Linked DNA regions of Homo sapiens: region 1 is linked to region 2. Evidence: fine-mapped QTL for protein levels in blood plasma. A gene starts in region 2. The other region holds a variant in brackets. All regions are shown on one strand. Distances are from middle to middle. Region 1 holds the start of FUOM (fucose mutarotase). Region 2 holds the start of PRAP1 (proline rich acidic protein 1).

The links. PIP is the chance, under the fine-mapping model, that this variant and not a neighbour inherited with it causes the effect. The UK Biobank Pharma Proteomics Project read protein levels with antibody pairs (Olink). The fine-mapping took linkage between variants from a reference panel, not from the people measured, so its PIPs are less certain.
Region 1: its variant is fine-mapped to the plasma level of the PRAP1 protein (UK Biobank, PIP above 0.99).

The regions. Positions count from the first base shown.
Region 1 is chr10:133,357,947-133,362,721 of GRCh38, reverse strand. It overlaps FUOM (fucose mutarotase), which reads left to right and starts at 4,703. Exons shown (of 6, transcript NM_001098483.3): 1 at 4,703-4,775. The coding sequence starts at 4,715. It overlaps ECHS1 (enoyl-CoA hydratase, short chain 1), which reads left to right. Exons shown (of 8, transcript NM_004092.4): 8 at 1-237. RefSeq lists silencers at 3,280-3,442, 4,475-4,554, 4,605-4,775. The variant A/G (reference allele first, on the strand shown) is at 382.
Region 2 is chr10:133,341,059-133,350,499 of GRCh38, reverse strand. It overlaps PRAP1 (proline rich acidic protein 1), which reads right to left and starts at 3,127. Exons shown (of 5, transcript NM_145202.5): 1 at 3,075-3,127; 2 at 339-405. The coding sequence starts at 3,082. It overlaps ZNF511-PRAP1 (ZNF511-PRAP1 readthrough), which reads right to left. Exons shown (of 9, transcript NM_001396060.1): 6 at 339-405. It also overlaps the pseudogene BANF1P2. RefSeq lists enhancers at 1,782-2,441, 2,442-3,101, 3,102-3,761.

The sequences.
Region 1 (4,775 bases), 15 kb before region 2:
TCTCACGGCATGACAGCCTTCGTCACCCAGCCTGTGAGGGTCCTGACTGGAGCACCTTCTAAATCTAAGATTCTGCTGAGGAGCCCCCGCTGGTCCCTCTGGGCATGCTGTGCTCGGACGGAAAGCGGGGCCTGCGGGTCCTTGTGTCCCTGCCGCTGAAGAATGGGGCTGCTCTGAGGGAAACGCTGTCTGCTGCCTTCATACAGATGCTGATTAAAGTGATAGCGATTCAGATTACACCACGCCTTGTAGTCATGTCTGCAATGAGCATTCTGTCATGTTAGTTGTTTTTTTAAACTTTTTTGTTTTTTCACTGTAAGGAACAACATTCAAACAAAACAAGTTTGTATAGTCAGTTGCCTCACATCATACTTCCAGGGT[A/G]GCCACTGTGAACAGCTGGGCTTGTGACTTCCTAGAGTTCTGTGCACGCACCCACACACCCCTGCACACGGGCACAGGCATGGTCTATGGTTTTCTTCCACGCCCACTCACGTCGAGCCCTTTCCTCACGAGAGCCCACCCTATTTTCTTCCTACTTCTGTCATAAGGAGCTCTCTGTTCAGTTTACTGCATTCTTCTCTACTGTGGGAACACACGACGTCAACTTGATCATCTTAACCACTGTGTTTTAGAGACGGGCTGGAGTGCGTGGCTCAGTCACAGCTCACTGCAGCTTGAATCTCCTGGGCTCAAGTGATCCTCCCCCCCTCCCAAGTAGCTGGGACCACAGGGGCGCACTCCCACACCCAGCTGACTGTTTAAATTTACCTTTTGTAGAGACGGGGTTTCCCCGTGTTGCCCAGGCTGGTCTGAACCATTTCAAATGCACATTTCAGCGGCATTAAGTACGTTCTCGTTGTGCAGCCATGACTATCCAAGAAAGCTTTCATTTTCCCAAACGGAAACTGTCCCCGTTAAACAACAACCCCTTTTCTGCTTCCCTCCAGCTCCTGGCACCCACGCTTCTACTTCCTGTCTCTATGGAGGGACCTCCATTTATCCCTTTGGGTCAGGCTCATTTCACTCAGCCCCACCCCAAATCCCTGGGTTGAAATCCTAACCCCTACCGTGACTGCATTAGGAGGGGGGACTTTGGGCAATGACTAGTCACAAGGGCAGAGCTCTTCGAGTGGGTTTAGTGTCCTAGGAGAGAGAGGGTGGAGCTCCTCCAGTGGGATTAGTGCCCTATGAGGGGGCGGAGCTCCTCCAGTGGGATTAGTGCCCTATGAGGGCAGAGCTCTTCAAGTGGGATTAGTGCCCTATGAGGGGGCAGAGCTCTTTGGGATTAGTGCCCTGTGAGAGGGCGGAGCTCTTTGAGTGGGATTAGTGCCCTATGAGAGGGCGGAGCTCCTTCAGTGGGATTAATGCCCTAAGAGAAGGCAGAGCTCTTCCAGTGGGATTAGTGCCCTATGAGAGGATGGAGCTCTTCCAGTGAGATTAGTGCCCTATGAGAGGGCGGAGCTCCTCCAGTGGGATTACTGCCCTATGAGAAGATGGAGCTCTTTGAGTGGGATTAGTGCCCTATGAGAGGGCGGAGCTCCTCCAGTGGGATTAGTGCCCTATGAGGGGGCGGAGCTCCTCCAGTGGGATTACTGCCCTTAGGAGAGCCCTGAGGGCACTCTTTCACCCCTCCCACAATGTGAGTGCTCTGTGGGAAGGTGCTGTCTGTAAACCAGGGTGGGCCTCATCACACACCGAACCTGCCTGGAGCCTTGGCCTCCAGAACTGTGGAAAGTCAGTGTTTATCAGCCACCCAGACCATGCCACTGCATCACAGCAGCCCAAGCTAAGGCACATACTGTCCAGAAGGTTTGTGCCTGTTGTGGCATGTTTCACCATTTGATTTTCTCACTAAATGACAGTCCTATAACATTCTTTTTAGTGGCCCTGACGTTTCATACTATGGACATGTCATCATGCCCTTGGTTCTAGGTATTTCCCCCAGGGAAGCCCACCTGCCCCCAGCTCAGTGCAGACGCCAGAGAGCGTTTGCCGGTGTCTCCTCCACTTGGCCCCGCAGCTCAGTGTGCGTAGGTGGTCTAGATTGTGGTCATGGCCTTGGGTTGGGTGGGCAGAGTGTGTGAGCCCCCACCGCTGAGGACTTGGGCTGAATACCAAGGACAGGTTCACCTGCATCAAGAAAGAAGAACAGTGATCTTTGCCGAGCTCTGGTTCCCTGAACGCTGCAGGTGCCACGCCCGTGTGTCCGGTTACATGTACACGCAAAGGGGACACACGCATGCTCTGCGACCGCTTGCCTCGGAGGCATTGGCTCTGCACTCCCACCCACCCCGTCTGTCCTCCTGTGTGCTGTGATTGGAGTCCACTAGTTCAGAGCCGGCTTCAGGGTGGAGCAGGTTTATCTCGCTTCTGCCAGGGCAGGTGGGAGTTCTCATGCAGTTGGCCTTAAAACAGGCGGGAGATGTTCTTTTCAGATAAGCCTCAGATAAGCCTTGGGATCTGGGACTGTTTGACAAATACTGAAACAGGTACAAAGGGAGTTTGATTCAGGTCCAACAGGGCATAACAGGCTCTTCCCTTGGGGTAGGGAATCTGGAACCTGCTCACTTACTGGAGTGGAGCACGTGGAGTCTGCGTGGGTCATGAACCACTGGCCCTGGAGCCTGGAGTAAATATGCAGAGATAGATAGGCACCAAATGTTCAAGTATGCAAGGGAGGAAGCCTGAACATTGAGAAAATCCACTCCGTTTAATTTTTCATGTGCACTGGGGTCAGCCTCCATAATCTGATTTCAAGCAATGGAACCTCAGAGATCCGTAGGGCTGGCTGCAGCCTCACGTTCATACCTGTGTCAGCCACACTTGGCTGGAAGCCAAGAAAGGGCCCAGCATGGAAGCCGCATCTCAGAGGGCTGCGTCTAGTTATCTGGTTCCAGAGCTTGGCAGGGACAGACACCCAACCCTTAGGCTGGGGAATGGACTTTGTCTTCATGCTGGCCCCAGGGAGCCTGGAGGGAGGGGTGCCACTGTCCGGGGCAGGGGAACCCCAGACTCAGAGTGAGGCTTCCACTCACTCCTGAGCTAGTTGACCTCTGGCCCCATTATTGTTTGGGGTTTGATTAGGTGTTTTTTCTTTGTTGGTTTTGTTTTTTTTTTTGAGACGGAGTCACTTTCTGTCACCCAGGCTGGAGAGCAGTGGAGTGATCTCGGCTCACTGCACCCTCCGCTTCCCGGGTTCAAGCAATTCTCGTGCCTCAGCCTCCCAAGTAGCTGGGATTACAGGCACCAGTCACCATGCCTGGCTAATTTTTGTATATTTTGAAGAGACGGGGTTTCACCATGTTGGCCAGGCTGGTCTCCAACCCCTGACCTCAAGTGATCCGCCCGCCTCGGCCTCCCAAAGTGCTGGGATCACAGGTGTGAGCCACCGCGCCCGGCCTGATTTGGTTTTGAAGCTGAAAACTTTCTTGCCCATCTCTATAAAATCCTCTTGCCCTTGTATATTTGGGTAAACGGTGACTCTCCACTTACAAGTTGGAGTAGAAACTGCCCAGGTACAGCTCTGAAACCCGGTGGCCTCGGTGCAAAGCCACCCCTCATTGGCAGGCCCTGGGCAGCCCCGGTCTTCTCTCTGCCCGAGTGGCCGGCCCAGGGCCAGCTGTTCAGGTGCTGCTGGGTGCCAGCCTGGGTGGCCCCACCAGGCTTTTCCGACGCAGCCCAGGCCACTTCCCATGGGGACAGGCTCCTAGGGCCAAGCAGTTCAACATGGAGACGTCTGTTTCCTCCTGGTTTTCTGACGCGGCTTTGTCATTTTTCACATACAGATTGATTTTCAGAACTTTTTAGGAGCCGCCAGGCCTCAGAGCATTTGTGTCACCTCAGGGCTGAGGGCCAGGGCCGCAGTGCTAGCCCCACAGCTGGTGTCCAGCTGGGAATCATGTGGAAGAAGGTGGTTCCGCGGAGGGAGGGCCTGGCCAGCCTGAGCTCAGCCAAAGGTCAGGATGCCGCCATCCTGGGCAGGGGGTTGCAGGCCGCTGACACCGGGGGATGATGGAGGACCCTTAGGTGTCCTGGCACTTCGCAGCTGAGCCTGGAAGCTGGGCCTGGCTGCCCTCCTGGACTCCCCCCAAGGGGGTCCGAAGTCCTGGCTCCCGTGTCCCTTGCTCCCGGTCCCTCAGGAGCGTGGGCTGAAGGCCTGGGTCCAGCTACCCACCATGGTGACCCCAGGGACCCGGTGCGCTCCGGGCATTCTGCCAGGCCTAAGGGCAGCACGAAGTGGTCAGAGGGCAGAGACCCTCATGAGGGGAGGCCGCGGCGGTTGAACCCCTTCGGCCTGAGGGAGCTCGGGGTGGGAGGCTCGGGTAGGGACACTGGGGAGCCCCCGGCCACAGCGCAAGGGCACCCGAGTCTCGGACCTGGCGAGGAGCCCGTGGGCTGGCTGGGTGTTGCCCCCACGCCACGACTCAGCCCGCACGTCCCCAGTTCCTGGGGCTCCCCGCCCTTCCTTGAGCCGCAAGCGGACCCCAGCCCGCCGAACCCTAGGCCCGGCCCGTCCCCAAGCCCCAAGCCCGGGACCCTAAAGCCCCGCCCTCCAATAAAGCCCCGCCCTCCCCGTAAAGCCCCGCCTCTGCCCCTAAGCCCCGCCCTCCCCGTAAGGCCCCCGCCTCTGCCCCCAAGCCCCGCCCTCCCCGTAAGGCCCCGCCCCGGCCCCCAAGCCCCGCCCCTAGGCCCCGCCCGCCCCGTCTGCCGGGCCATGGTGGCGCTGAAGGGTGTCCCCGCACTGCTGTCCCCCGAGCTGCTCTACGCGCTGGCGC
Region 2 (9,441 bases):
GGGTGTCATCCGGGCCCACCTCCTCCACCTGGGGTCACGGGGGCTCATCTGGACCCACCTCGTCCACCTGGGGTCATGTGGGCTCATCTGGACCCACATCATCCACCTAGGACCACCTGGGTGTCTTGAGGCCTGTCCATCTGACCCCAGGGAAGGGAAGCCTGCCCCCTCCTCATGCCTGCACAGGCATCAAGAGTCATGAGCGTACCCATGCCTCTCTCCCCTAAGCCAGCTTGGGGTTTGAAGCCAGAAGAGGGGCCCTTTGTCCACATCCCCTGCTGTAGGGGCAGAAGGTGACAACTGGAGTTGCTGCCCAGATGGGAGGGGCTCACACCTACCTTGGGTGCTGGGACTGCACCTGCCTCCCACAGCAGCACAACCACCAGGCTGGTGACCAGGAGGAGCCTGAGGGGGGGCCAGAGAGGGAAGTGTGAGGTAGGGGAAGGGGACGCCCTGAACTCCAGGCAGCACCCTGATGGGCAGCTGGGAGGCCTGGGCTGGGTTCCTCCTTGGGAGCGCAGGTAGTTTTACTGGACTGTGCTCACATGGGCCAAGACACGCAGGCACAGAACAGGGAGAAGCCCCAGGCCCACCTGCCTCCAGCCCCCCTCAGGCCAGAGCCCACAGCCCCAGCCCCAGACTCTGCTCCTCACAGTCTGGGCAGACCCCACTGTGGCAGGCACTGGTGGTTGGCTTGGAAACTCCAGAGGTTCTGCCATGCCTCTGTGCCGCCCTCCACGTGGGGACACACATGAACACACTTGCACATGGGTGTGGGTATGGGTGGGTATGGAGCAGCGAGGGCCCACAGCCCCACGCCCACAGAGCCCTGAGGCTGCACGCTGCTGCAGGCAGGGCACCTGCTGTGTCCCAGAGCTGCGGGGCCACGGCTGGGGGGCTCAGGGGTGAATGGCAGCACTATTAGGCAGGCAGGCAGGGTGTCAGGTCAGTTCGGACACGGGATGTGTGTGTTTGTGTATGTGGTGGGGGGTGTGCATATGTTGTCTGTGCATGTGTGTTTTGTGGGTGTGGACCATGTGCATGGTGGGTGTGCATGTATGCTGTGGGTGGTGTCGTGTTCGGGTGTGTGTGCACTGTGTGCTTCAGTGTGTGGTGCATGTGTATGTTGTGTGTGGTGCGGAGTGTGTGAGTTCGGGGGTGCGTGTGCTGTGTGTGTATGTTATGTGTGTTTGTGTGTGGTGGATGTGTGTGTATGTTGTGTGTGGTGTGGAGTGTGTGGGCTTGGGTGTGTGTGTGTGCTGTGTGTGCATGTATGTGTTGGATGTGTATGTATGTTGTGTGTGGGGTGGAGCGTAAGGGTTTGGGGGTGGGTGTGTGCTGTGTGCATGCGTGTGTGGTGTGTAGAGTGTGAGGGTTTGGGAGTGTGTCTGTGTGTGCGTGCGTGTGTGATGTGGTGCAGACTTGTCTCTTCAGGGCCCTGCGGGGGAGGCTTGCGTCTGTCAGGGTGGGGTGGTCTTGGGGTGGGGCGGGGCTCTGGGTCTGTACAGGGCTCAGCAGGGCTGCAGTCAAGGGTGTCTGGGGCAGGCGCAGTGGTTCACACCCATAATCCCAGCACTTTGGGAGGCTGAGGTGGGCAGATCACCTGAGGTCAGGAGTTTGAGACCAGCCTGGCCAACATGGCAAAACTCCGTCTCTACTAAAAATATGAAACTGCCTGGGCACGGTGACTCACGCCTGTAATCCCAGCACTTTGGGAGGCTGAGGCAACAGATCACTTGAGGTTAGGCATTCGAAACCAGCCTGGCCAATATGGTGAAAACTTGTCTCTACTAAAAATACAAAAAAAAAAAAAAAAAAATTAGCCAGGCGTGGTGGCAGGTGCCTGTAATCCCAGCTACTTGGGAGGCTGAGGCAGGAGAATCACTTGAACCTGGGAGGTGGAGGTTTCAATGAGCCAAGATGGCGCCACTGCAGTCCCTCCAGCCTGGGCGACAGAGCGAGACACTCTGTCTCAAAAAAAAAAAAACAAAACTTAGCTGGGGGTGGTGGCACACACCTGTAATCGCAGCTACTCCTGCTGAGGCAGAAGAATCAGTGTCTGGGACACCCTGCAGGCCTGGATTGCAGCTCCACAGGGACCTTTGCCCGTTCTCTGGGTGACTCAGCCATGGTGAGAGGTCAAAGGGCAGGGGGGATGCCCCGGACAGCCCGGGGCCGGGACCTGGTCTGGTCTGGTTCGGGGGCCCTGCTTCTCCTCAGGACCCCCAGCTGGTTCTGATGCTGGGCAGGGGCTCTTGTCTGGGCACTGGACCCCAATCCCACTGCCGTGCTGCCTGGGCCACCCCTGGTGCCCACCTCCCATGACACACAGCCTGGGGGCCTGGGATTCGGGTCACGGTAGCCCCTAGAAAGGTGGTCGGTGGTGACTGCCAAGCAGCCTGGCTGTGGGATCCCCGTGGGTCCCCTCTCCAGGCAAACGGCTCTGGGCACCAAAGGGTCCCCAAGCTACCCAGAAGCCACCTCTCTACAAGGGAGAAACACCAGGAGAGGAGGGGCAGGGAGGGCCCTGGCTTAGAGGAGGGGGAAGAGGAGGAGGGCACCTCCACAGGAGCGGGGAGAGGGGTCCCCCACACAAGGAGGGGGAAGACAGACACCCCCACAGAAGGAAGGCAGCCTCTGATTCCAGGGTCCAGCGGGAGCCCGGGTGCTTCCCTGAGCTCCAGATCACAGCTCCCAGGGTGACACCACCTCAGGGCAGCCCCTGGCTCCTGCGCCCCAGCCCCTCCCCTCCCCCAGCCCCCTTCCTTTTGGGCAGTCACAGGCCTGCTGGTTTCAGCCTGGCACCTCCCCTTTCCTTGTTCCGGGTGGGGGTCCCTGGGTGATTCTCCACCAGGCCAGGGGAACCAAGAGGCAAGTGCACTCGGGGCCACAGAGGAGGTAGAGCCTGGTGGCAGACCCCAGACCCTCAGAGGGCCCCTCCTTCTCCCTCCCACCCGCACACTCCCCTGAACCAGGCCCCCTGGAGCGCAGCACAGCTGGGCCCCCTCTGGCTAAGGGCCAGGCCTCCAGGTTTGGGTGGGGTGGGGATTGGGGCTCAGGGATGGTGGCATTACCTCCTCATGTCTGGGGTCCGCGTCTCTGTAGAGAGTGCTCAGGGAGCTGCAGTGGCTGATCCCAGTATCTGGCACCCGGCCCAGCTCCTCCTGCCCAGGCCCAGGCCAATTGGGGCTTTGTTGCTGCCGCTTGGGGCGTGTCAGGACAGAGGTCGGGGCCAGGGATCCCACCCTGGGTAGCTCAGGTGACTGGCTCTGCAGCCGCCCAGCCCACTCGGGCCTGGATCTGAGCGGGGACACCCAGCTGCCTGCTCAGGGCCTGCCACACGACTGAGGAAGAAATTTGCCTTTAAAAACATGCTTGTTGACCGGGCGCGGTGGCTCACACCTGTAATCCCAGCACTTTGGGAGGCTGAGGCAGGTGGATTGCCTGAAGTCAGGGGATTGAGACCAGCCTGGCCAACATAGTGAAACTCCGTCTCTACTAAAAATAAAAAAAATTAAGTGGGCGTGGTGGTGGGCTCCTGTCATTCCAGCTACTCAGGAGGCTGAGGCAGGAGAATTGCTTGAACCTGGGAGGCGGAGGTTGCAGTGAGCCGAGATTGCGCCACTGCAGTCCAGCCTGGGCAACAAAGAGCGAAACTCAGTCAAAAAACAAAACAAAACAAAACAACACCAAAAAAAAAAAACCTGCTTGTCATGAAGGCTGAACCGTGCTCACAACCAAGGCAACTTGGAAGGGTGTCGTGGGCAGCTGTCCCCAGCTCAGCTGAAGCACTTCCTTCCTCAGGTGGGCGTGACAAATCCCCCATCCAGCCCCAGCCCACCTGCCTGTCACACCTGCCCCTGCCCACCACCTGCGGCAGGGCGGGACCAGCTCAGCTCCACCACCGTGGAACCCTCACCCCCAACGCCACCACCTTCCCCACCCCTTCCAGGCGCTCCCTCCTGTCCTTCCTTACTGGGCACACCAGCCTGAGGAGTCTTGCACGCTGTGTGGCCAGGGCCCGCTCCACGGGGCCCAGTGCCCTCATTGCCTTTTTTATTTTATTTTTTTTGAGACAGTCTCACTCTGTCACCCAGGCTGGAGTGCAGTGGCGCGATCTCAGCTCACTGCAACCTCCGCCTCCTGGGTTCCAGTGATTCTCCCGCCTCAGCCTCCTGAGTAGATGGGACTACAGGTGTGCACCAACACGCCCAGCTAATTTTTGTATATTTAATAGAAACGAGGTTTCGCCATGTTGCCCAGGCTGGTCTCGAACTCCTGACCTAAGTGATCCGCCTGCCTCGGGCTCCCAAAGTGCTGGGATTACAGGCATGAGCCACTGCGCCCGGCCCTGACCACCTTCTTTAGCCGTCCCTGGCACACCCTGTAAAACAAAAACACAATTCCAATCTCCGCCTGACCCCACCCGACTGATGGACCCTCCCTAAGCCCAGGGCATTCCACGGTTAACCTGAAAACTAGTTCAGGCCATAATGGGAAGTGGGGGTCAGACAGGCCTCATTGTACCCGCCTCCTTTTGGAATTCAGGCAAAACTGACCAGCATTAACATTAAAACAGAGACCTTAAGACTAATAGAACAGACTCTGACAAGAAATAGTCCCTTTTATTGATTCTATCTGCATATACTTGGTCTCCACAACACCTTATCTTAACCCTGACTTTCCCTTCTATTGATTCTAGGTCTTTAGATAATAACTTAACTCTTTTGACCAATTGTCAATTGGAAAATTACTGAATCCACCAATGACCTGGACACCCGCCGCCTTTCTGGACCAAACCCATGTACATCTCCCACGTACTGAGTGATGTCTCGTGTCCCGAACATGTATCAAACCAGCTGCACCCCAACCCTCTCGGGCCACACATGTTCTCAGGATCTCCTGGGACGGCATCATGGGCCTTCCGTCACTCATATTTGGCTCAGAATCACTCTCCAAGTATTTTACAGGGTTTCACTCTTTTCCTCGACAACCCCCAGCGGGCAGCTACTGTTGGGGGCTCTGAGACCGCCGGCCTGCAGGGTATGGTTCTCCCGAAGCTGCATGTTCAGACACAATTGGAGGCCGTGCTTCCAAGGGGGTGGAGTGAGGGCCCTCAAGAAAGGCCAACTCAGGAATTTCCAACGTGACCCACAGCGTCTGAGCTATTGAGGAGGGGTCACCCGAAGAAGCCGCTGGGCTTGGGTGAGAACAGATGTTCCTCTGGCCTTCTTGCCTGGGGCTGCTCCTGAAACCACCTTTGCGAAAACCTGATAGTGAATCTGACCTAACCGACTCCACCTTGCTTCTAACCTCCAACCTGTCCTTGTTCATTCCTGGGTGTAGGTCACACCAACTTTGGGAGGATCTTAGTTTATAGTTTAATGTTGAAACAAAGATGAAAACAGCCCCTTCCTGAACAAACCCCCTTCTTGCCTGGGGACCAGACTGCCTTTGTAAAACTAACAAATTAGTCACAAGATTAGAAATTATGGTTTAGGAAACTTCTAGTGGCTTGAGGTATCGGCCGGAGCGGCCGGGTGGCGGGAGGAACCGTTACGGGAACTGAAGTTGCCGATTAAGCCTGATCAAGATGCCAACCTCCCAAAAGCACCGAGACTTCAGGGCAGAGCCCATGGGGGAAAAGCTAGTGGGGAGCCTGGCCAGGATTGGTGAAGTCCTGGGCAAGAAGCTGGAGGAAAGGGGCTTTGACAAGGCCTATGTTGTCCTTGGCCAGTTTCTGGTGCTGAGGAAAGATGAAGACCTGTTCCGGGAATGGCCAAAGGACTCGTGGTGCCAACACCAAGCAGTCCCGGGACTTCGGATGCCTTCGAGAGCATGCGATGCCTTCTTGTGATGCTCTCCAGGAAGCTCTCAATCCCCAGCCCTCACCCAGAGTTTGTAGCCGAGTCGGGACTCCTCCCCTGTCCTCTACAAAGGAGAAGATTGCTATTGTCATACTCACGTCTGACGCACTCTGGGTCTTTTGGGAGTTTTCTCCCCTAACCATTTCAACTTTTTTGGACTCTCACTCTTGCATGTCTCCCCCTTCCTTTTTCACTTTCCCTGGTGACAGTTACCAGCTTTCCTGAATGGATTCCTGGCCCCGTCCCTCACCTCCACCCTCACTTTCAGTCCATTTGATACTATTTGGCTCCTTTTTTGGCAGAACAGTCACTGTCCTTGTAAAGTTTTTTAGATCAAGAAAGTCAGTGGCTTTCATGAAAAATAAAAAAGAAATTATGTTTTAGGTGTCAGGCAGGACCGGGCGCGGTGGCTCACGCCTGTAATCCCAGCACTTTGGGAGGCCGAGGCAGGCGGATCACGAGGTCAGGAGATCAAGACCATCCTGGCTAACATGGTGAAACCCCGTCTCTACTAAAAATACAAAAAATTAGCCGGACGTGGTTGCAGGCGCCTGTAGTCCCAGCTATTCGGGAGGCTGAGGCAGGAGAATGGCCTGAACCTGGGAGGCGGAGCTTGCAGTGAGCAGAGATCACGCCATTGCACTCCAGCCTGGGTGACAGAGCGAGACTCCGTCTCAAAAAAAAAAAAAAAAAAAAAAAAAGGAGTCAGGCAGCTGGAGGCCACAAGATTCTAAGCCTCCCCAATTATTCTTAGGGAAAACATCACTATTGTAAATCCTAAGATTGGTGCTCGAGACATTTTTCGGACTCTGAACTTGGTGGAACAGCTGGTGCCACCCAGATCCATGAACTGGCTCACCTGGTCTTGTGGCCCCCACTCAGGAAGTGACTCAGCACAAGAGGACAGATTCGACTCCCTGTGATTTCATCTGCAACCCAACCGATCAGCACTCCCTGCTTCCCAACCCCTACCCACCAAATTATCCTTTAAAATTTGAGTAGTGATAAAGCTCCAGCCTCCCGTTCAGCCGGCTCCGCGTGAATTAAACTTTCCGTGTTGCAGTTTCTCTCTGCCCTGATAAATCGGCTCTCTCTGGGCAGCAAGCAGAATGAGCCTGTTGGGCAGCTACACTCCCACCCACCCCTCAGTGGCCGAGTGGCTCCACGGGGGAGGCAGCAGAAGGCCAGTGGCTCAGGGAACTGGGGTCCCCAAGGGGATTATGAGCAGTGATTGGCAGGCCAGCCCGAACTTGAATGGGGTGATCAGGTCTGGAATGAGAAAGGCACAGGGAGCCTCCCCAGGTTCCCACACAGTCCCAGCTGACCTCCCCATTCCTCTGGCCCAACACAAGTCTGTGCATTCACACTCAGGAGACGGGAGACAGCCGGTGGGAAGTAAAGGTCGGGCACCTTAAAAACTGCATCCACACAGAGCGTGGCCCCCAGCCCACCCTTGAGGCACCAGCAGAGTGGGTCCCGCGGCCTGAGCACAGCCTCCAACCACACAACCCAGTGTGACTCAAGGAAGATAGGCTTAAAAAACTGGGCGGAGACACCAGGCCACGTGCTACAGGGGAAACAAAGTCCACAGATTTCAACAAAACAGCAACAACAACCCTTGGGAGAAAATATCAGAACTCAAAATGTTTGCAATATATTATCTAAAACATCTAGTCTTTAGTAAAATGAGACGAGGTCCCCAGGCTCGTCTCGAACTCCTGGGCTCAAGCAATCCTCCCACTCAGGCCTCCCAAAGTGCTGGGACCACAGGCATGAGCCACTGTGACTAGCCTGTTGTATATTTTAAATTAACAAAAAAGAGTGGAATTAGAATGTTAGCACAAAGAAATGATACAATCTTGGGGTTATGGATACCCCAATTATCCTGGTTTGATCATTACATATGGCATCCGTGTACCCCATGGATATATATACCTATTATGTACCCATAATAATTAAAACTTTTTAAAAATTAAAAATAAAGGGCCAGGTGCAGTGGCTCACGCCTGTAATTCCAGCGCTTTGGGAAGCCGAGGCGGGAGGATCACTCGCGGTCAGGAGTTCGAGACCACCCTGGCCAAAATAGCGAAACCCCGTTTCTACTAAGAATACAAAAATTGGCTGGGTGTGGTGGCAGGCGCCTATAGTCCCAGCTACTAGGGAGGCTGAGGCAGGAGAATCGCTTGAACCCGGGAGGCGGAGGTTGCAGTGAGATGAGACTGCACCACTGCACTCCAGCCTGGTTGACAGAGTGAGACTCCATCTCAAAAAAATAATAATAAAACTAAAAAAAAGAAAGAAAAGGACTTATACCCAGAATATAAAAAGAACTCTTACAACTCAACAATAAAAAGACAAACAACCCAACTGAAAAATATTCAAAACATTTGCACAGACATTTCACCATAGATGATTTACAAATGGTGACTCCACCCTGAGAAGATGTTCAGCACCACTTGTCACTAGGGCGACGTGGACTCAAGCCACAGCTACACTCCTATAGGACGGTGTTATGGGCTGTGTCCCCTCTAAATTCATACATTGATGTCCTAACCCCTCAGAATATGACGATATTTGGAGATGGGTTTTTAAAGATGTAAGTAAGGTAAAGCAAGGTTATTAGGGTGGACCCTAATTCAACAGGACTGGTGTCCTTATAAGAAGAGATGAGAACACACAGATACGCCAAAGGGAAGACCATGTAAGGACACGGGGAGGTGTGGCCACCCACAAACCCAGGGAGCAGCCTCAGGAGGAGCCAACCCTGCCAACAGCTCCAACCCTGCCGACAGCTCCGTCTCAGACGTCAGCCTCCATCGCTGTGAGAACATGAATTTCCATTGTTGAAGCTGCCCAGTCTCTGGCAATTTGTTATGGCAGCCTCAGCTAAGACAGATGGCTAGTATAAAAAAGACAAAATCAAGGATCAAGAGTTGGTTGCTGGGCACGGTGGCTCACGCCTGTCATCCCAGCACTTTAGGAGGCCGAGGCGGGTTGAGACCATCCTGGCCAACATGGTGAAACCCCATCTTTACTAAAAATACAAAAATTAGCCAGGCGTGGTGGCATGAGCCTATAGTCCCAGCTACTTGGGTGCCTGAGGCAGGAGAATCGTTTGAACCCGGGAGGTGGAGGTTGCAATGAGCCAAGATCGTGCCACTGTACTCCAGCCTGGCCAGAGGGAGACTGTCTCAAAAAAAAAAAAAAATCAAGAGGTGGTGAGGATGTGGAGAAACTGGAACCCTCCTATACTGCTGGTGGGAATGTCACATGGTACGGCCACTTTGGAAAAACACATTTTAGCATTTTCTTTCAAAGTTAAATGTCAACTTTCCATCAAATTTGGCAATTCCACTCTTCAGTAACTACCCAAGAGAAAGAAAAGCACACGTCCACCAAGGTTGTGATAAGAATGTTCACCACAACATTATAAACAGCTGACAAACTGGAAACAGTTCATACGGATGAATGGATGAAACCTGGAGAATCCATGGGTTAACAGCAATAATGGCCGGGCGTGGTGGCTCACGCCTGTAATCACAGCACTTTGGGAGGCCAAGGCAGGCGGATCACC